Homo sapiens: one gene and its partner. The protein of the gene in region 2 purifies or fractionates together with the protein of the main gene of each other region. This does not show direct contact. Each region holds a gene or a part of one and is shown on either strand. Other genes may lie near its edges.

Region 1 (3,099 bases), on a different chromosome or scaffold from region 2:
TGTCCGGTATAGCCACTAGCCACATGTGACTATTGAGATTCAGTTTAAATTAAATTTGCTTAGTTACACTGCCACATTTCAAGTGCTCAATCGCTAAATGTGACTAGCGACTGCCATACCAGACAGTGACGTCCTAGGCAAGGATGAATCCATACTTTTCTTCCTTTGAATAAAAGGCTTTGGTTTTCTAATTGTATGATGCACTCATTTTTTGCTCTTGCTTGTAAAAGCTACATTTGGCAGGGATTTCACTAGCTTGAGCCATGATTTTGTTTCTAAAATTGAGCAGCTCCCATCAGTACTAAAAAAACAGTCAAGAATCAAGGATCGGGAACCTATTTCACTCACTCCATTCCTGCCGTGAATGTCTGGAAGCTATACTTAGCTATGTTTCTGTATGTATGTACACACACACTGCTATATACATCTGAACAACCACAGCAGCAGCAAACTGAAAGCAGGAGTGCTGTCTTCACTGCCTCGGGAATGCCTCAGAATCTTTCTGCTTAAAGCATAGCAAATCACTTTTGATTGTGAACACTCTTCTGTTTCATTTCCTGATCATCTTTCTCCTGCTTTCCCCACAAAGGTCTGCTATTGTATATCTGTATAATAAAATAAAATTATTTGTAAGAATTGTATTCTTTTAGCTACTAGCTATCCCTCTGGGATGTTGTTAACCTGCCAGAAATTTTACAACTAAAAACAGTTACGATACCTTTTATTCATTCTTAGTCTTGACTTTTCTGACGTGATGTTTTAAATTCTTTCAATCAGTGATCTTAGAGATAGGGCAGTTTTTGTTTTTATCTGCCACTTTTATCCTTGCAGCATGCATTGGAGTTCACTGCAGACACTTTTTCTCAAACAGGAGATTGGGCAACCTTGAGTCCCCAAAAGGAACTTACCTGTCAGCTCAGGCTCTGGACCTGCTTAAAGCTTGAGACACAGGAGGGCCCTGAGCAAGAGAGAGAGAATAAAACTATCAGTTAAGTAGGAATGATAAACAAGGTTCCATTCCACATGTGGGAGATGGCCTGGCAGTAGCTGCTGGAACGCAGGGTTGAGAGAGAAGTACTGACAGAAGAGGATTCTTCGGGTGGAAGTGCAGAGTCAGCTGGTGATGGCTACAGGAGAGGGCAGCTCCCAGCCTGTGCCGTGGCCATCCCCAGGTGCAAGTGAAGAAAGAAAGAGGTGGGGTGAAAGGAGGAGAATCACCATATCACCATTTTTATTTTGATGCTTACACTCATTTATTCTGTTTTTGTAAAACAGTTTCAAGAATTTAAAAATCCTTCCAGTTAATAGAGCTTTTGTTATTATATTATAATTTTGTAAACCCACTTTGTTTTTCCCACTTTAAAGCCACAGGGTCGACTCATGGATGATACCTCTATTGCTGCTGCATGATGTTCAAGACCGGCCCTTGGCTGTTGTTACAGAGATGTTGGGCAGAGCTATGCAGGTGTTTCATTGTGAACTCTAGCTTTGATCATGGTAAAAAGTTAACCTTTTCTATTTTTTAATGGATGTTATACCAACTATTCAGAGGAACTCATACTTCAAAAATATTAGGAAAATCTGTCTTATAGTTTCTCTAATAAATATCTGAAATCTCAGTACGACATGAAAGAATGTCAGACCATTGTTATTGTTGAAAGTCATTTGATGAATGGTAAATTCTATGAAAAGTAAGTGATTTGCATGTATAATATCAGGAAAATTAAGCATCCCAAGTGTGACTGGACAAAGAGAGCAGATGCACCAGTGCCTGTGCCATAAAGTTCCGAATCCCCCATGTGTCTCTTTCAGAGCTGGCCAGACCGGAAATAAATCATTCTCATAAATTCAGTGTGTACTCAGAACACATACACAACAACATAGGGAGTTGTATGACTGATACGGAAAACTTCCAGAAAGTTTTAATCAAAGCAGTTTAATTAAGGTATCAAAAATATCTTTGCTTACTATCAAGAAGTGTCAAATAGGTTCAGCTTGCTGCCAAAATATGGATCATTTATGAAGCAGGTTCATATTTTAGAGGTGTTAATAAAATCCTCATCGGAAAAGATCCAAAGTGCAAGGATTTGATTATAAACATAATTTCCTAGACTGAAAGTTTTTGGAAAAGATGCAGGGTCTGAGTCAGGCCTTCTGGTTATATTGTGCAGTTTCAAAAGAACTATTTAAAACTCTTGAAAACTCATGTAAATAAAAATCATAGGGTGAAAATTGTATTTGTTAAAATACCTTAATAATTTAAAATGACCTGATTTCCTGGAAAATTTTATTATTCAAAAGGTGGAGGCATTGTAAAAAGGAAATAGTGATGTAAATAAACATGTTCTCTTTCAAGTATGCTTGTCTGTCTCTATCTTTTATTTTGAGCTTGTTTGATTTCAGCTTCATGGAACAGCTTTTACTAAGAACACTGTTGCATGAGATGCAATGGCAAGCACAGGATTGAAAATTGGGCTGTGTTCTAGAACTGGCTCTGGTAACATTATGTGAGAGTTGGACAGTGCTATCTTGGGAGGACATGAGCTCCCTGTTGTAACATGGCTTTTCAGGTAGAGGCCATGGAGCATGACTCTAGAGTCCAGCTGTCTAGGATCAAATCCCTCCTCTGCTGCTTTTGTCTGGGTGACGTTGTTCAAGTTCCTTACCCTCTGTGTATCTCAGCGTTCTTGTATATAAGATGTAAATAACACCCATCTTATAGGCTTGTTATGAAGGATGATATAGATTCATACATGAGAAGAGCTTGGAACAGTGCCAGACCCAAAGTTATGTATGAGGGTGCTCAGCCAGTGTCATCTATATTTTTATGGGAAGGCTGAAGAGGGTATTCACTTTTCTACTGGAGAGTTCCATGTTATCAGAATTTGTTGATACATTTTACATAATTTACTACATATATGAGTATACATGTGTATGTAAATACGTGAAACTATAAACAAGTTTCATAGAAGAATGCATTCTGTGTACTCTTACATATTTTGTATCCTACTCTGTTTTGTTAAAAAACATCCCTGGTTATAAACCTGATGAATTGATTTCATGACCCACTAATAGGATGTAAAGTGCGGTTTGAAAAAT
Region 2 (7,302 bases):
TCCATTTCTCGCTGACAGGATTATGTGTCTTTTTTTTTGTTTTTGTTATGGAAAGTTTTTTTAAATGAAATAAAGTTTTATAAATTTTCAGTATAGCAAAATAAACTTCCATAAGACTTGAGGTGAGATAAAAGAAAGAAACAGTGTTCTAACCCTCCAAATCAAGGTTTTTCAAACTATGCTTAAAGAGGAATTCTCTTAAAATGGACTAATTGGGCATTTCTCAATTTATGGTGAATGGATTTTGAAAGGCTAATGGATAAAATGTTCTCAAGTTGAATTTTTCTTAAAAATTTGGTGCCTACTCAAAAGTGCATGAACAAGTAGCAAAATTAAGTAGTAGGGCTTAATTCAAAAGCTCATGTGATCATAGGATTTGAAAGTGTCTGCATATAAGCATATTGTAACTGCCCAGTGGGTTCTTCTTCCCCACTGCCCAGGTAGAGCTGATCTATCAAGACAGGAGAATTGCAATAAGGAGTTTATGTAGAGCTGCTAAATGGGAGAGCAGAGTTTTATTATTGCTCAAATCAGCCTCCCCAAACATGCAGAGTCTAGGGTTTATCAAGGATAGTTTGGTAGGCTGGGGGCTGGGGAATGGGTGCTCCTGGTTGGTTGGGGATGCAGTTACAGAGGTGGGGGCCAGAGGACCAGTTGGAGTCATCCGAAATGCAAAAGTCTGAAAAGACATCTCAAAAGGCCTTTTTTAGGTTCTACAATAGTGATATTATTTACAGGAGTAATTGGGGAAGTTACAAATCTGTGACTTCCAGAATAATGTCTGATTATCATTTAACTACCTACATTTTAGCAGAATTCAGACCCCTCTCATAAGCCTAACCTTATAGTCTTTCATTAGTTTTGCAAAGGTGATTTAGTTTCGGGAAGGGCTATTATCATTCTTGCTTTAAGCTTACACTATAAACTAAATTTCTCCCAAAGTTAGCTTGGGCTGCATCCAGAAATGACCAAGGGCAGCTTGGAGGTTAAAGGCAAGATGGAGTTGATTAGGTGAGATCTCTTTTACAGTCATGATTTTCTTACTGTTACAATCTTTGCAAAGGTGGTTTCAATAGTTCCTGCTAATAAATATGTTCCTAGGTGATTCTACAGAGAGCAGATTATTCCAAAAAGAGCATCATGATTTACAGACACTTATTCTAGCTGAACTTGTTTTTTTGTTTTTTTTTTTTTTAAGAGACAAGTCTCTGGGTTAGTGTGGTGGCTCACACCTGTAAATCCCAGCACTTTGGAAGGCTGAGGTGGGAGAATTACTTGAGCCCAGGAGTTGGAGACCAACCTGGGCAACATAGTGAAACAGTGTCTCTATTTAAATAAAAAAAAAAAGAGGCTGGACACGGTGGCTCAGGCCTGTAATCCTAGCACTTTGGGAGGCCAAGGCAGGCAGGTCACAAGGACAGGAGTTCCAGGCCAGCCTGGCCAACATGGTGAAACTCCGTCTCTACTAAAAATACAAAAAATAGCTGGGTGTGGTGGTGCACGCATGTAGTCCCAGCTACTCGGGAGGCTGAGGCAGAAGAATCACTTGAACCCAGGAGGCGGAGGTTGCATTGAGCCGAGATTGTGTCACTGCACTCCAACCTGGGTGACAGAGCAAGACTCAGTCTCAAAAAAAAACAGAGAGAGAGAGAGAGAGACAATGTCTTGCTCTGTCATGCAGGCTGAAATGCAGTGTTGGGACTTTGGCTCACTGCAGCCTTGACCTCCTGGGCTTAAGTGATCCTCCCACATCAGCCTCTCGAATAGCTAGGGCTATGGGCATGCTACCATGTCCAGCTAATTAAAAAAATTTTTTTTTGTAGAAACAGAGTCTTGCTATGTTGCTCAGGCTGGTCTCAGACTCCTAGTCTCAAGTGACCCTCCTGCCTCAGCCTCCTACGGTGCTGGGATTATAGGCATGAGCACTGCGCCTGGCCTCATCCTAAGCATGTTTGAGAAGTGTGGAGAATAGCAGAAAAACTGAAGATAGTGATACGTACAGTAATAGATGTATGTACAGAATTTTACGACAGCATAGGGCCTAAGGAAGTTTCAGGGAAGCCATCTGGGAGAATGTAATACTTGAGCAGAATTTAAAGAATGTGAATGCCAGGCGCGGTGGCTCACGCTTGTAACCCAGCACTTTGGGAGGCCGAGGCGGGCGGATCACAAGGTCAGGAGATCGAGACCGTCCTGGCTAACATGGTGAAACCCCATCTCTACTAAAAATACAAAAAATTAGCCGGGCGTGGTGGCGGTCGCCTGTAGTCCCAGCTACTCAGGAGGCTGAGGCAGGAGAATGGCGTGAACCTGGGAGGCAGAGCTTGCAGTGAGCCGAGATCACGCCACTACACTCCAGCCTGGGCAACTGAGCGAGACTCCGTCTCAAAAAAAAAAAAAAAAGAATGTGAAGTCTAGGGAATAGCACATAAAAAGGCAGGGAGACAGAAGAGAACATGGCACTCTGGAGTTGCTGCAGAAATTTCAGAGTGGTAAAAGGGAAGGATGTTTGTGAATTTGGTTAACTAGCCAGGAGTCTTTAAGGAAAGGACATACCATGATGCCATGCTAAGGAGTTTGGACTTTATTTTTTGTTTGTTTGTTGGTTTGTTTTGAGACAGGATCTCACTCTGTTGCCCGGTCTAGAGTGCAGTGGCTAGATATTGGCTCACTGAAACCTCTGCCTCCTGCACTCAAGCCATCCTCCTACCTCAGCCTCCCAAGTAGCTGGGACTATAGGTGCATGCCACCATGTTCACCTAATTTTTGTAATTTTTTTAAAGATGAGGTTTCACTATGTTGCCCAGGCTGCCCTCGAACTCCTAAGCTCAAGCAATCCTTGGCCTCCCAATGTACTGGGATTTACAGGCATGAGTCACTACATCAGGCCTGGACTTTATTTTGAAGAAAGGGGAGCAGGTGCTGAAATTCCAGTAGAGAATAACATGATTTTTTTTTTAGACAGAGTTTCACTGTTATTGCCCAGGCTGGAATGCAATGGGGTGACCTTGGCTCACTGCAACCTCCGCCTCCTGGGTTCAAGCAATTCTCCTGCCTCAGCCTCCCGAGTAGCTGGGATTACAGGCATGCGCCACCATGCCCAGCTAATGTTTTATGTTTTTAGTAGAGATGGGGTTTTTCCGTGTCGGTAAAGCTGGTCTCGAACTCCTGACCTCAGGTAATCCGCCTGCCTCGGCCTCCCAAAATGCTAGGAGGCGTGAGCCATCATGCCCGGCCGAGAATAACATGATTTTTTTTAGAAATTTACTTTAGTAGAAGTTACACTACCAGAAATATAGAAGATGACACAAAGTAGGAAAAAATGAGACAAGACCAGTTGGAAAGCTATAGCTAAAAACCAGGAGAGAAATGATAAGGCTTTACTTAAGAAGTAAGGGTAGAGAGAGACGATGAATTTTGAAAAGCTTGTAAAAGATAGGCTCCACCGGACTACAGTGTATGGGGGGTTGGGAGCACAGGGGTGAAGAAAATGGAAGTTTTCTGGTTGGAGTAACTAGGTGAATGGTGGTGCCATTAATGAAGTTAGGAAATTTTGGAGGCAGAGCAGGCTGAAGACATTAATAAAATGAATATCATTTGAATATGCATACTTCGAAGGTCCTGTGGGACCACTAGATGTCTATGCCCAATAAAGTCTGTACTAGAAACGCAGATTTAATAGTCACAGCACCATAAGCAGAGTGCATGGTTCCTTAGAAGAAAGTTTAGCAAATAATAAGCCCTATGGTTTCCTTAGTGGGAGACAAACAGCCTTCAGAATATACAAAAATCCCTGCCTTTTTGGAGCTTTATTTTAGCAGAGAGGGGAACAAGGGGCACATGGGCAATATAAAATAGTAAAATGTATGGTATATTAAATGGTGAAAGAAGTTCTGTGGAGACAGATTAAGCAAGGAAGTGGGACTGAGTATCAAAATCAATTTTTAGAAGGTTTGTTAAAGCTGATTAGCGGCCCCATACCCAGAGTTTCTGATTAAGTAAATTGGGAGTGGGACTAGAGAATTTGCAAGTTCCCATGTGATGCTGATGTTGCTGGTCTTTTTTTTTTTTTTTTTTCTGGTGATGAAGTCTCGCCCTGTCACCCAGACTGGAGTGCAGTGGCATGATCTCGGCTCGCTGCAATCTCTGCCTCCTGGGTTCAAGCGTTTCTCCTGCCTCAGCCTCTTGAGTAGCTGGGACTACAGGTATGTGCCACCATGCCCGGCTAATTTTTTGTATTTTTAGTAGAGATGAGGTTTCACTGTGTTAGCCAGGATGATCTCGATCTCCTGACTTCGTGATCCGCCCACCTCAGCCTTCCAAATGCTGGGATTACAGATGTGAGCCACCACACCCAGCCAACACATTTTTAAAATCACTAGGATAGAGAGTTGCCAAAGGGGTATGATGTTGCACTTTTAAAGAAGATGGTTAAAATGGGCCTAAGATGGTGACATGAGAGTAGACTCAAAGGAAGTGAGGGAGTTGGTTGTGTGACTATCTGGAGGAAGAGTTGATGCAAAAGCCCCTGGAATGTGCCTGGCATGTTTAAGGGACGGGGCAGAGTGCATCTGCAGAAGGTTGAAGCCAGAGAGGTATGGGGTCTGGATTGTAGAGGACAGTCCATCAGTCATCCATAGGATTTGGATGTGTTCAGCATAGAGGTACTATTTCAAGCCTTAAGATTGAATGAGATTGTCAAAGAAAGAGCAAAGCAATCTCATGATTTAAGGCAAAGTGTGATAATCAGCTAAGACACTGAGAACTGGGAAGCCTGGATGATTCTGAGACATTTTGAAGCAAGGAACAATAGAACTTAGAGCAGAAAGCAAATGACTCAGGGAAAAACATCAAAGGTGATACCAGGTTTTATAACCTAGGAGAGAAGAATGATTGAAATTGGGATAAAAGGGAGACGAGGAGTAATTAGGAAGAGGATTTGATTTCTGAAAATCAATTATAAGCAGTAGTTCCCTGTTTATCCTGTTGCCTTGTGCCAGGTGCAGTGGCTCACACCTGTAGTCCCACAGCTTTGGGAGGCCAAGCCAGGAGGATATCTTGAGGTCAGGACTTTGAGACCAGCCTGGGTAACAGAGTGAGATCCCATCTCTTAAAAAAAAAAAAAATAGCCAGGCATGGTGATGTGCCTGTAGTCCTAGCTACTTGGGAGACTGAGGTGGGAGGATTGCTTGAACCCAGGAATTTAAAGCTTCAATGAACCATGATCTCGCCAGTGCACTGCAGCCTGGGCGACAGAGCAAGACTTGTCAAATAAATAAGTAAATAGCAGTTTGGTCTTTTGTTGGAGGAACGTCTATTCTTAGCTTGGACACTGCGGTTTTTCCTTGGGCAGCAGAAGCAATGTGGCGATTGAAGAAGTGACCTAAAACTTTGATGTTAGGTAGAAGCAGATGGCCCAAGCCAAGACAAGTGCTTGTAAATCCACTGGTGGGAGCCCCTCCTCCTAACAGCAGGTTATTAACGCTGCCAGAAAAAAAGTGTCCCCTCTACCGGTCTGGTGAAGAAACCTCATCGCTACGGGCCTGGGACTGTGGCACTTCTAGAGATTCTCGTTACCAGAAATTGACCTAGCTTCTCATCTGGAAGCTGCCTTTCTAGAGGTTGGTGAGAGAGATCACCCAGGATTTCAAAACCAACTTTAGGTTTCAGAGCACAGTCATTGGGGTGCTGCAGGAGGCTAGTGAAGTGTACCTGGAGGCTAGTGAAGTGTACCTGGTGGGTTGGTTTGAAGATGCTAATTTGTGTGCCATCTACGGTAAGAGAGTTGGCTCTCATGCCCAAAGACATCCAGTTGGCTCGCCAGACACGGAGTGAGCGAGCTTAAGTGAAGGCAGATTTTAAGGCATTTTATATGAATTCTGTAAAATACTTTGGTTTAATTTGTGACTTTTTGGGGAGAAATTATTTATAATATGTTGCATTTGTGCTTAAGTCATTCCGTCTTTTGGGATGAATGTGAAAAGTGACTGTTCATAGACCTCAGTGACGTAAGCACTGTTGCTCAGGAGTGACAAGTTGCTAATACGCAGAAGGGATGGGTGACATTTTTTCATTCTCATGACGCATGTTTCTGTAAGTTAATGACTTGTTAGGTAGCTATTAAGGAACTAGAGTTGATAAATAAATGTGTATAGGTTCCTTTTGCAATATAACTGGTTATTACTTGATCCAAGTGTTTAACATTTGGAGCTAAGTCTGACCATACATTACTGTGATAGAATGTGGGCCTTTTCAAGGGTGAAGATACAAGCCTTAACCACAGTATAACTTGCAGTTTCCTTAAACAAACAAAGAAATAAAAACCTAGCATGGAGTACATTATGTGCATTTATAATAGCTATTTTAAATATTGTAGTGTCAACATTCAAAAATTAATTCTTTTACATTCGCAAATGGTGGGGAGTCTTGTCATTAAGGTGTGTATAACTTAGAATCCACTTGGTTTTCTCCTAACTGGACTGCATTTGTTTTCATAGTAGTAAAATGTTATGTGTATTACACCTTGCATAAGTCCTCATTCTACTACGTGTTAACTAACCCTCTAGATGATAATGCAGATGCTAACTGTGGGATTTTATTTATAAGAACTCTAGAATAAATACCAGTTATTCCTACCAACATCGGCTGTTACTAATATTCTGAAGTAGTTAGTGCAACTTTTCATTGTGTTGTGGTTGGTCTCCTAAGTAGGTTGGATTTTTCTCCTCTTCTAAGAGAAAACAATAGTGAAATTATTTTCTTTCTCTTTTCTCTCTGTTTCTGTCTCTTTCTCTCTCTCTTTCTCCCTTCCCTTCCCTTCCCTCCCCTCCCCTCCCCTCTTCTTTTCTTTTCTTTCTCTTCTCTTCTCTTTTCTTTCTTTCATGGGGTCCCTTGCTCAACCTGTTGCCCAGGCTGGAGTGCAATGACATGATCATGGCTCAGTGCAGCCTCAACTTCCTGGACTCAAGCAATCCACCTGCATCAGCCTCCAAAATGGCACATGCTACCATGCCCAGCTATTTTATTTTTACTTTTAGTACAGATGTGGTCTTGCTATGTTGCCCAGGCTGGTCTTGAGCCATTGAGCTCAAGTGATCCTCCTGCTTTGGCCTCCTAAAGTGCTGGGATTACAGGCATGAGCCACCGTGTCTTGAGGGGTTTGTTTCTATTAAAAGACTTGGTGTCAGGGAGGAGCACAAAGCTTTAACCCATTGAACCTCTGACAGTTAAGATGGTGTTGGGTTAGGTTACATCTGGTTACTATCCTGGGAAAATCACTTCTATAGAGATGGCCTTCCAAGT

Evidence for each region.
Region 1: the proteins of TRAPPC6B (region 2) and TRAPPC11 purify together in Homo sapiens (affinity purification with mass spectrometry; 2 studies listed by BioGRID and IntAct, with this or other methods). This does not show direct contact.

The regions. Positions count from the first base shown.
Region 1 is NC_000004.12:183,711,235-183,714,333, forward strand, and holds the end of TRAPPC11 (trafficking protein particle complex subunit 11), read left to right. Parts: intron 1-1,365; coding exon 1,366-1,410; 3' UTR 1,411-2,355; downstream 2,356-3,099. UniProt on the Homo sapiens protein: Involved in endoplasmic reticulum to Golgi apparatus trafficking at a very early stage.
Region 2 is NC_000014.9:39,160,149-39,167,450, reverse strand, and holds part of TRAPPC6B (trafficking protein particle complex subunit 6B), read left to right. Parts: intron 1-7,302. UniProt on the Homo sapiens protein: Component of a transport protein particle (TRAPP) complex that may function in specific stages of inter-organelle traffic.